Linked DNA regions of Homo sapiens. The protein of the gene in region 1 purifies or fractionates together with the protein of each later gene. This does not show direct contact. Each region holds a gene or a part of one and is shown in the gene's direction. Other genes may lie near its edges. The genes, in order: ANXA4, MPST and RAB11FIP5.

What was found.
Region 2: the proteins of ANXA4 (region 1) and MPST fractionate together in Homo sapiens (co-fractionation; one large-scale study listed by BioGRID). This does not show direct contact.
Region 3: the proteins of ANXA4 (region 1) and RAB11FIP5 fractionate together in Homo sapiens (co-fractionation; one large-scale study listed by BioGRID). This does not show direct contact.

Annotation. Positions count from the first base shown.
Region 1 is NC_000002.12:69,804,622-69,808,270, forward strand, and holds part of ANXA4 (annexin A4), read left to right. Parts: coding exon 1-6; intron 7-1,763; coding exon 1,764-1,877; intron 1,878-3,284; coding exon 3,285-3,375; intron 3,376-3,649. UniProt on the Homo sapiens protein: Calcium/phospholipid-binding protein which promotes membrane fusion and is involved in exocytosis.
Region 2 is NC_000022.11:37,022,669-37,026,317, forward strand, and holds part of MPST (3-mercaptopyruvate sulfurtransferase), read left to right. Parts: intron 1-1,083; exon of another isoform or gene 1,084-1,259; intron 1,260-1,523; coding exon 1,524-2,142; intron 2,143-3,649. UniProt on the Homo sapiens protein: Transfer of a sulfur ion to cyanide or to other thiol compounds. Also has weak rhodanese activity. Detoxifies cyanide and is required for thiosulfate biosynthesis. Acts as an antioxidant.
Region 3 is NC_000002.12:73,102,930-73,106,578, reverse strand, and holds part of RAB11FIP5 (rab11 family-interacting protein 5), read left to right. Parts: intron 1-3,649. UniProt on the Homo sapiens protein: Rab effector involved in protein trafficking from apical recycling endosomes to the apical plasma membrane. Involved in insulin granule exocytosis. May regulate V-ATPase intracellular transport in response to extracellular acidosis.

The DNA of each region.
Region 1 (3,649 bases):
GGCAGGGTAGGCCACAGTCTTTCCTGCTCTGTCTGGCTGACTTCGCAGCAACAGGAAGCAGGGCCTCTTCCTGATCTAGGTTCCCGAAGTGACCTTGTGTTTTAAAAGATCGATCCTTTGTCTTGTTTAAAGATGTTCTTGAGGCCAGGTGTGGTGGGTCACACCTGTAATCCCAGCACTTTGGGAGACCGAGGTGGGTGGATCACTTGAGGCCAGGAGTTTGAGACCAACCTGGCCAACATGGTGAAACCCCATCTCTCCTTAAAAAATACAAAAATTAGCCGGGCATGGTGCTGAGCACCTGTAATCCTAGCTACTTTGTAGGTTGAGGCAGGAGAATTGCTTGAACCAGGAGGTGGAGGTTGCAGTGAGCCAAGATCATGCCACTTCACTCCAGCCTGGGCAACAGAGACAGACTCCATCTCAAAAAAAAAAAAAAAAAAAAAAAAAAGAATAGCGATTCAGCTCCTTCTTCGTCAATTGATCTTAAACAAGTTCTTAAACTCTCTGACCCATTCCAGGAGGAAATGTGAATAAACATCTTTAGAATTTGGTCCATTTTCCAAATAATTATATTTGGAAACTATATCTCAGGAATTGAGCCTTAAGAAATAGTCATGAATGATCACAAAGATACAACTAAATGCCTTATGTATATAACAGTAGAAAAATAGAAACAGGTGACTAGTTAAAGAAATTAGGCTGGGTGTGGTGGCTCACACCTGTAATCCTAGCACTTTGGGAGGCCGAGGCGAGTGGATCACTTGAGGTCAGGAGTTCGAGACCAGCCTGACCAACATGGTGAAACCCCGTCTCTACTAAAAATACAAAAAAATTAGCTGGGCATGGTGGTGGGCACCTGTAATCCCAGCTACTTGGGAGACTGAGGCAGGAGAATCGCTTGAATCCAGGAGGCGGAGTCTGCAGTGAGTCAAGATCGTGCCACTGCGCTCCAGCCTAGGCAACAGAGCAAGACTCCATCTAAAAAAAAAAAAAAAAGAAATTATGTTGCACCTATCTATAGAAATCTCCACAGCTGCTAAAAAGGTTATCAGTGAATATTGACTTGGAAGTATATTCAAGACATATTGTTAAGTAGGCAAATACATTTACATCGGTGTCTACAAACATATTCACCTCAAAGTTCCTTTACCTCTTAAATTTTTTAGGACTTTTGGTTTTGTGGGTTATATCTTTTGATATTTGCCCTATTAGAAACTAAAACTGAGGGCATTTAAAAATAGATATTTGTTAACTTAGTAAAAATAATAAGTATATTGTATGTTACTGTAAATAACATTTTAATGAAAAATAGCTATATATCCCAAAACGAAAAAACATTTAGTGAGAAGATTGGCATTGTTTTACATTTTGCAGATCTCTTTAATGTCTGGCTTAATGGAAGACAGATGGCTTCTCATATCTATTTCTACTTCAATTTGTTATGATATGTGGTTTTGGTTGGGGTATATGAAGAAAATCTGGCTTGTACAGATATGTACTTGAAAATGGGGGGAGTATTTGAACAGACAGTTGTTGATGCACAGACAATGTCAAATAGCCTTAGGAAAACCCCACTGTATGCTTGTGGAAGAATGACAGTGAAAAGGCAAATAACATCTGAGTGTTATTCTGAGGATAGTTTTGACTTGCAGGCCCCTTGAAAGGGTCTTGGAGACCCCAGACATCCCTGGACCACACCTGGAGAGTAGCTGGTCTAATTTGCTATAGCAGTTAAGCGGAGCTACTTTCTTGCATTGCAGGACTTGATAGACGACCTGAAGTCAGAACTGAGTGGCAACTTCGAGCAGGTGATTGTGGGGATGATGACGCCCACGGTGCTGTATGACGTGCAAGAGCTGCGAAGGGCCATGAAGGTCTGTGCTCTTCCTCTCGTGCTCTTGGTGCTGTTGGTGCAAACGCTGATGTGCTTTCTTAAGAAACTGTCACCCAATAAGAAAGACATGGAAGCAACCTAAACGCCCATCAATGGTAGACTGGATAAAGAAAATGTGGTACATGTACACCATGGAATAGCTGTAAAAAGGAACAAGATCATGTCCTCTGGAGGAACATGGATGGAGCTGGAGGTCATTGTCCTTAGCAAACTAAGGCAGGAACAGAAAATCAAATACCATATGTTTTCACTTACAAGTGGGAGCTAAATGATGAAAACACATGGACACATAGAGGGGAACAACACACACTGGGGCCTGTTGGAGGATGGAGGGTGGGAGGAGGGAGAGGATCAGGAAAAATAACTAATGGGTACTAGGCTTAATACCTGGGTAATGAAATAATCTGTACAACAAACCCCCATGACACAAGTTTATCTATATAACAAACCTGCACATGTACCCCTGCACTTAAAGTAAAAGTTAAATTTTTTTAAAAAAGAAAGAAACTATGACCAAGGCCTTCTGAGAGTAGCAGGTGTAAAGTATAGGAGATTTTCCTTCATTTACGACAACTTGAAAACATCATTACTTTACATTATACCAATTATAATTTAAAAGTTCTTTTCCAAAAAGTTAGGGAATCATTTGCTCCTTCCTGTGGCTCAATGGGGAGTGATTATAATTGTCGCTTTTAGTACAGCTCTAGAGACTTTTAGCTATCTCTAGACAGCTAACTACTTTTGAGATATGTAACTTTATGACTGACACTTTAGGGGCCTCCAGGTCTACTATAGGCTTACTTCTGGCAAAAGAGTTCCTGGCTTCCCTAGATGACGTACCCACTGTGCCCTAGCCTGGTCTGCCAAATTTTAATGACCAAGTATGTAATGCAAATATAAATGGTCCCCACCTTAGGATGGTTCTACTTAAAAATTTTCAGTGTATTGTACTCCTCATCATAAGTCGAGGAGTACAATTATCCTCCTCAACCATGTCAATAAATACTCAGACTTGTGGAAGGTTCTGGGCCAGGCTCTGGGAAAGCAAAGAGGTGACAAAGTCTTTGCCAGAAAATTCTGCCCTTCAGAGGAAGAGAGCAGAAGAGGTCAAGGAAAAATTAAGTCCCCAGAGGGCAGAAACCATACCTACCCGGGCACAGTAACGAACACATAATAAACAGCCTAGAAATGTTTGTTATTACTCATAATTGTTACGGCAAACACTTTGGGTTTCGGGTGGGACAATAAAAGTGAACAAACCCTGTTGTTAGAACGCAGTGGATTGTCTTTATTCTCTGCAGATTCATGACAGATGTATTCCTTCTGTGTCTGGGCCTCAGCTTTGTAAACTGGCTCATATAGCCCTGTCCTCTGGTTTCTTGTTTAGGGAGCCGGCACTGATGAGGGCTGCCTAATTGAGATCCTGGCCTCCCGGACCCCTGAGGAGATCCGGCGCATAAGCCAAACCTACCAGCAGCGTACGTGACATCCGCAGTGGCCCTGGCTGAGGTTTCGCTGTGATTAGAGAATGAGGGTAGCAGCGGGTTGTTGTTTGCTGATTAGACTTTTCACAGAACGCTGAGCATGAGGGATCCTCGGTGCCAAGCTCTGCTTCGAGGGAGATCCCTGTTTAGCCAAATGGCGGTCTGTTGGCTCCTTAAGATTTCTCAGGTGAAGATGACACTCTATTTTGCCTACCCAGTGCAGTATTTTATTACCCTAAAAGTTGGAAAGTTGTTCCTTATTATCAGA
Region 2 (3,649 bases), on another chromosome or scaffold:
AAAGCAGGCGTCCTAATACCCGCCCAAGGCTGCGGTGCCTAGCATGTGACCTGGCCCACAGAGGCACTCGGTCCACAGATGTTGTTCTCTACCTGCCCCCTTCATTTCGCTGGCAGGACTGCATGCAGTGGGTGTCAAGGTTGGGCCTCACACAGGGGATAAGTGAGGGCTGATCTGCAGCCCATACTCCACACACCCAGCCATGTGCCCTGGTGGGGGCTCAGCCTCTGCCTGGCAGAAGGGGCCCTTTCCTCTCACCTGCACAACGGTGGCTTCCCAGCACAAAGGGCTTAAAGTGTTTGGGAAGTTTACACCCAGGAAGGCTGTGGGCTGGCCTGGCATAGTGGGCTGGCGAGCTGGTGCACTGTCTCTGGTATGCAGGAAAGATAGAGAGGAGAGGGAGGGAGGTGCGAAGTCACTGTTGCTGCTGCTAGAAGGGCCAGAGAGAGCCCAGGCTGGACAGGCAAAACCTGGCCTCGCCAGACTCCTGGAGCCTGCACAGAGTGTGTGTCTGAGAAGTCCGGATTCTGGTGCCAGACTGACTGCCTAGTGAGAAGCCTGGCACCGCCGGGTCAGGCTAGTGCACTTTTTCTTGTTTGTTTTTTGTTTTTGAGACAGAGTTTTGCTCTTGTTCCCCAGGCTGGATTGCAATGGCACGATCTCGGCTCACTGCAACCTCCGCCTCCTGGGTTCAAGCAGTTCTCCTGCCTCAGCCTCCCGAGTAGCTGGGATTACAGGTGCCCTCCACTAAGCCCGGCTAATTTTTTGTATTTTTGGTAGAGACGGGGTTTCACCATGTTGGCCAGACTGGTTTCAAACTTCTGACCTCAGGTGATCCACCTGCCTGGGCCTCCCAAAGTGCTGGGATTACAAGCGTGAGCCACCGCACCAGGCCAGGTTAGTGCACTTCTGTGAGCCTGAGTGTCCTCCTTGAAACGGTGACAATAATATACCAGGCCTCTTAAGATCACTCATTCAACACATACTGGAGAGTCTACTGTGTCAGGCATTGTTCTAGGATATTGTTAGGATTCAGTGGTACCCAGCAAGGACTCAGTAAATTCCAGCTACTGTTCCTATTAGGTCGCCAATATAAATGCTTGATGAGTGAATGAATGACTTCCGTCTGGGACTTGGTTGCAAATAAAGCCGAGCTGCATCTTAGGGAGGGGTGGAGACTTTGCCCCTGTTTGTGCCTTGAAGCCAGCAGGGCCTTGCCCTAGGATACCTCCACCCACCCTCCTGCCCAGCAAGTGGAGGTGAGGGGCGTGGCCTGGGGCTCTCCGGGAGGTCATGGTCATTGGGTCACTCGGAGCTTGTGTTTATATGAGGCCTGGCAGAGGGAGGCCCCTGGCTACCCACCTTTGTGCCCGGGTTCACCACCACTGGTTTCTGCGTTCCCTGGACTCTGCCCTGCACGGGCCGCACCTCCCCCGCCGGCCCTCGCCCATGCTCCAGCCCCAGCCCTAGCCCCAACAGCGGCCTCTCCCTGCTTCCCTTCTGACATCCTCCCTGTCGCCCAGGCCCGCAGCCCGAGTGTCGCCGCCATGGCTTCGCCGCAGCTCTGCCGCGCGCTGGTGTCGGCGCAATGGGTGGCGGAGGCGCTGCGGGCCCCGCGCGCTGGGCAGCCTCTGCAGCTGCTGGACGCCTCCTGGTACCTGCCGAAGCTGGGGCGCGACGCGCGACGCGAGTTCGAGGAGCGCCACATCCCGGGCGCCGCTTTCTTCGACATCGACCAGTGCAGCGACCGCACCTCGCCCTACGACCACATGCTGCCCGGGGCCGAGCATTTCGCGGAGTACGCAGGCCGCCTGGGCGTGGGCGCGGCCACCCACGTCGTGATCTACGACGCCAGCGACCAGGGCCTCTACTCCGCCCCGCGCGTCTGGTGGATGTTCCGCGCCTTCGGCCACCACGCCGTGTCACTGCTTGATGGCGGCCTCCGCCACTGGCTGCGCCAGAACCTCCCGCTCAGCTCCGGCAAGAGCCAACCTGCTCCCGCCGAGTTCCGCGCTCAGCTCGACCCCGCCTTCATCAAGACCTACGAGGACATCAAGGAGAACCTGGAATCCCGGCGCTTCCAGGTGGTGGACTCCCGAGCCACTGGCAGGTTCCGCGGCACCGAGCCCGAGCCCCGAGACGGTAACGCGGGGGAAGGGGGCAGGAGGTCGTCGGGGGCGCGGCCTCTACGCCCTGAGCAGTGCCCTGGACTTGACCTTTCTTTTATTTTTTTAATTTATCTTGCTTTCATTTCCTTTCCTTTTTTCTTTCCTTTCCTTCCCTTTCCCTTCCCTCCTTTCCCCCTTTTCCCTACCCTTGCCTTCTTTTCACAGGGTCTGGCTCTACCGCCCAGGCTGGAGTGCAGTGGCACAATCATGGCTCACTGCAGCCTCAACCTCCTGGGCTCAGGTGACCCTCCCCGCTCAGCCTGACCTTGCCTTTAAAGGCCACTGCATGAGGTGGGGAAGGAGATTTGACTTCCACTTGCCTCGGTGACTTTGTCTGTTAAGCAGAACCATAATACTGGCCCTTCCCCTCCTGTGCTTTGGGCAGTGACTCTCCCTAGCTCATTGGGAACCCTGGTTGCCCAAACAGCTCTCAATCCAACACTAGAGGTGTGGGGGGTCACTGTGGAATGTTGGGGGGCAGGCCCCAGTATGAGAGAAAAACCCAGAGGGATGGTCCTGATCAGGGCTACCCATGCCCCTGAGGATGGTGGAATGAAGGCAGAGTCGGGGGCTGCATAAAGGAAAGTCTCTTCCAGGGACCAAAGCTTGGAGAACTGAGGGTGGAAGGGGGATTAAACAGAAGTGGGTAGGGCAGAGCCTTCTGCCTGTGGGCTGGATTTCCTCAGGCAAGAAGCCTGTGGGTAAGCTCTGTATAATGCGAGGAGGAGTCCCCACAAAGCAGGCTGGTCAGTGGTCACGCTAGTGTGAGTCTTTCAAACATCCCGTGTAAGTAGATACTGTCATTGCACAGAGGAGGAAATGGAACCTGGCCCAAGGTCTCAAGAAACAACCCAGCCGGGATTCAGACTCGGCAGCCTGCGCACTTAACAGCCGTGAGCAACCAGGAACTCCCCAGCCCTTTCTCTTGTGCCTTCAAGAGTGCAAGAAACTGACCACTGCCCCTAGAGAGCTCTCTGAAGAGCATTCCCATGGCTACAGATTGGGTTTGGAGCCGCTTGGGCTCACCATGGGCCAGCATTGTTTTGGATGGCCTGAGGGCAAGGACTGTCCCTGCTCTTCATGCATCCTGAAGATTAGCTCAGTACCTGGCACAGAGTCGATGTTCCAGAGAGGTTTGGTGAATACAGAAGGTCCCTGTTGCATGGAATCCTGCAAAGCAATGTTGGTGTTACCGGAACCATAGGAAACAGCTGATATCCAACCATTTTTGAACCTACACAGGTGTCAGTTTCATGTGGTTCAGCCTAATGAGAGCACCACCTTAATCCTGTTGGGTTCTCCATCTCAGCCCCAGGGGAATGAGCAACACAGGGGAGCTAGCTGGTGGTGCCAGACTGGGGTTCAGATCCCTGCCACATTTACATGGGCTTTGTGACACACGACGGGTCATCTAATGTCTCTGAACTGCAGCTTCTGCCTATGTAGAATGGGAGCAGTAACACAGAGCATAAAGACATGAT
Region 3 (3,649 bases), 3.3 Mb from region 1:
CTGACCTGGAAGGGTAGTCCAATCCAAAGGCAGTTCTAGAGGCCTGAAAGGCCAAGAGTGGGCCACTGGTGGGGGAGAGATTCCAAAGGGGGGGAAGCCTGGATATCTCCCTACATTTGGAGGAAGCCCTATAGCCAAGTGCTGTGTTTTGGGGCCTAGACAGGGAGCCCTGGAGATGTTCGGAGCAGACAGAGCCACTGGCGCTGGCTGTGGTCTCCTCCTCTGTGAGGAGGGGACATACACCAGAGACCTGTCGGCCATCATGGAACCCATCTGCCTCCCCAGCCTTCTCTGAATCCCCACATCTGGAGCATGTGGCACCTGTTTTGGTGCATTATTTTCATTGCCTCGTTGGTCTAGTGCATTGCTGATGAAGGCCTATCTGGGTGCTGGCACTGTCTTAAGGTCTGGACTTCCATTTGTCCACAGCAAGCCCTTGAGGTGTAGGTGCTGTTTAACAGCTGAGGAAACCTTGGCACGGAGAGGTAAAGTGACTTTGCTTTTTCTTTCTTTTTTTTGAGGGGGTGGGGTCAGGGTCTGGCTCCATCACTGAGGCTGGCATGCAGTGGTGCCATCATAGCTCACTGCAGCCATGAACTCTCAAGTGATCCTCTTGCCTCAGCTTCCCAAAGTGCTGAGATTATAGGCATGAGTCACTGGACTTGACCACAGCACATGGCACAAAGTCAGGATGTGAACCCAGGCAGTCTGGCTTCCCAGTCTATGCTCTTGGCCACCACACCACACTGCCCACCTCAGTCTTCCCCCATGTCTTCCATGACCCTGCTCTGCACAGGGCCAGGTGCTCAGCTGCTGCCTGCCAAGGCTTCCTCTCTTCTCCTTGACATGGATCTCGGGGGTTAATCTGGTGCTCTGTAGGCATGACCTGCTTCTCCTGGGTGAGTCCTTGGTTTATTGGGATAAGCACATTTGGTCTGCAGCTCTAGCCTTATGTCTGTCCCAGAGGCTGGGGGATGTTGTCTCATACTTTGGGAGGGAGTCACTGCCACCAGATACCTCTCGGGAGTGGAGTGAGGGCTGGGTGTGGTGGCTCATGCCTGTAATCCCAGCACTTTGGGAGGCCGCGTCAGGAGGATCACTGGAGGCCAAGAGTTCAAGAGCAACCTAGGCAACATAGCAAGACTCCATTTCTACAAAAATACAAAAAATTAGCTGGGCATGGTGGTGCACACCAGTAGTCCCAGCTACTCAGGAGGCTGAGGTGGGAGGATCACTTGAGCCCGGGAGTTCAAGGCTGCGATTAGCAATGATTGCCCCACTGCACTCCAGCCTGGGTGACAGAGCAAGATCCTGTCTCAAAAAATAAAAATAAAAAAAGGAGTGGAGTGAGGCCTGAGAAGGTCAGCCTCACTTTCCACCAGGGCACTTTCCACCCTGGGGAGATTTGCTCCTTTCAAGCAGGGCTTGGGGGCATCAGCACATACCAGACTCCGTAATCCTTCCCAAGACGTCACATGCTGGTTTTACTGTGACAGAACACTCCAAGCCATCCTGTTCTTCCTCCTGCAGCAATACAGTCATTTGCTATTTTTTCCCTTCTGTTTCACAACATCCAGGAAGCAATTACTGGACAACCATTGTAACCACTGTGCCTAGGTCAGTGCTGTGGGGGAAACCAGGGAAATAAAGTGGATAGCCCTTTCTCCAGAAGGGCTAAAATATGTTTGAGATAAGCCTAACGCAGCAAGGACAATTCCTCTACAAAGCAGCATATAAAAAGCGTGAGAGAATGAGGGGGTCAGGAGAAGAGGGAGCTCACCAGTTGGAGTGATCAGGGTGGGCTTCTTGGGAGAGGTGAGGCCTTGAATAACAGGTGAGACCTGATTAGAGGCAGGGTGAGTTGGAGGCAGGGAAACTGTGAGTGTGGTGGGACTGGGCCAGGAGAGGGAGTGAGGGGAGCCAAGCTTAGTTCCCTGTGTGCCACTCTCAGCAAAACAGCAGGACTTTCTTTACTTCCTATTTAGTTTTGTTTTGTTTTGTTTTGTTTTTTGAGACAGAGTCTTGCTGTGTTGCCCAGGCTGGAGTGCAATGGTGTGATCTTGGCTCACTACAGCCTCCGCCTCCCAGGTTCAAGTGATTCTCCTGCCTCAGCCTACCGAGCAGCTGGGACTACAGGTGCGTGCCACCACGCCCAGCTAATTTTTGTATTTTTAGTAGAGACCATGTTGGCCAGGCTGGTCTCGAACTCCTGACCTCAAGTGATCTGCCTGCCTCAGCCTCCCAAAGTGCTGGGATTACAGGTGTGAGCCACCACACCTGGCCCCTATTTACTTTTGAGTAGTTCACCTGGTCCAAATTCTAAAGGTACAGAAGGGCACATAATGAAAAAAATTTCCCTTGACCCACCTTAAGTCACCTAGCTCCTCTCTTCAGAGACATCCAACATTACCAGTTCTTGTGTAACCTTCCAAAGGTGTTTTCTGCATTTAAAGGCAAATGCGTTGTGTTTTTTCTTCCCTCCCTCCTTGTTCCCAAATGCAACGTTCTCACCACACAGTTCTGTACTTCCCATGAGCCTGGCAGGGAAGTTATTGTTTGTTTCCCCCTGTTGTGGGGTCTGAACTGAGACCTTGGCAGAGGGGACCATCGCCACTTGGTTTTGTCTTCCTCAACCTGAGTCTCCTGGTCAGGGTGAATATGGGGTTAGGAGCACACTGGGGAGGGGGATGGGTTAAGTGGAATTTCTTTATTTTTCCACCTGCCAGAGATCCCCTGAGAGAGGTCATCTTGCGGGTTCTCTCCTTCCTCCTGGGCAGGGTTGTTGCTTTTTGGTCCTGGGCCACCTCACTTATATGGGGCTGATGATGGCCTGTAAAAGGCCTTTGATAGACAATAAACCCACATCTTTCTGTGTGGTTTGGCCTACTTTTAAGGGTGCCTTCCCAGTATCACCTCATTTCATTCTTCCCTGAGGGCAGACAGGGGGATCACCATTTTTGCGAATATGGAGACTGGGGTCTCAGGAGGTGGAATGACCTGTCCAAGGTCACACAACTCTTTAGTGGCAGCCAGATTTCTGATGTCTAAGCCTGATGCTTTTCTCCCTACACTGTGCTATCAACCCTACATCTTTTCTGTTGCTCTCTGTGGTTTGACTTGTCTCCAGCCATTTTTGCAGCTTTTCCTTGTGCTGGGTGAGCTGACAGTGACAGACCTTTGGAGCCTACAGCATTAGGATGAGGATTAAAAGTGCTTGTGCCCAGGAGGGAGGGAGGCTGGACCTGGCTGGGGTCTGAGGAGGGATGAGTGAGCTGTCCCCACAGAGGCAGGGGGAACTCATGAATGAGGACCTGGGCTCCCTCCAAAGGTTGCTGGTGCCAGGCATGGTGCCAGAGGAGGTGATAAGAATCATCTTCTGGCCTGATAAGAGGCTGTATCCTGTCCTGCAATTATGTCTGGCTTGCAGTTTTACTGTAGATACCAAATCAAAAGATGGGGTAGGCGGTGGATGCGGGGAGACAGCAGGGGTTGGCTTGAGGCCCACACAGCTCCTGTGTGCCAGTGTGTGAGGCAGGCTGCTGTGGTGGGCACTTGGAGAGGAGAGGAGGCATCAGGGTGGAGGAGGCTCTAGGGAAAAGGGTTTTCCAACTGTGTCACCATACTCTGAATATAATAGTTCTAGTTTCAC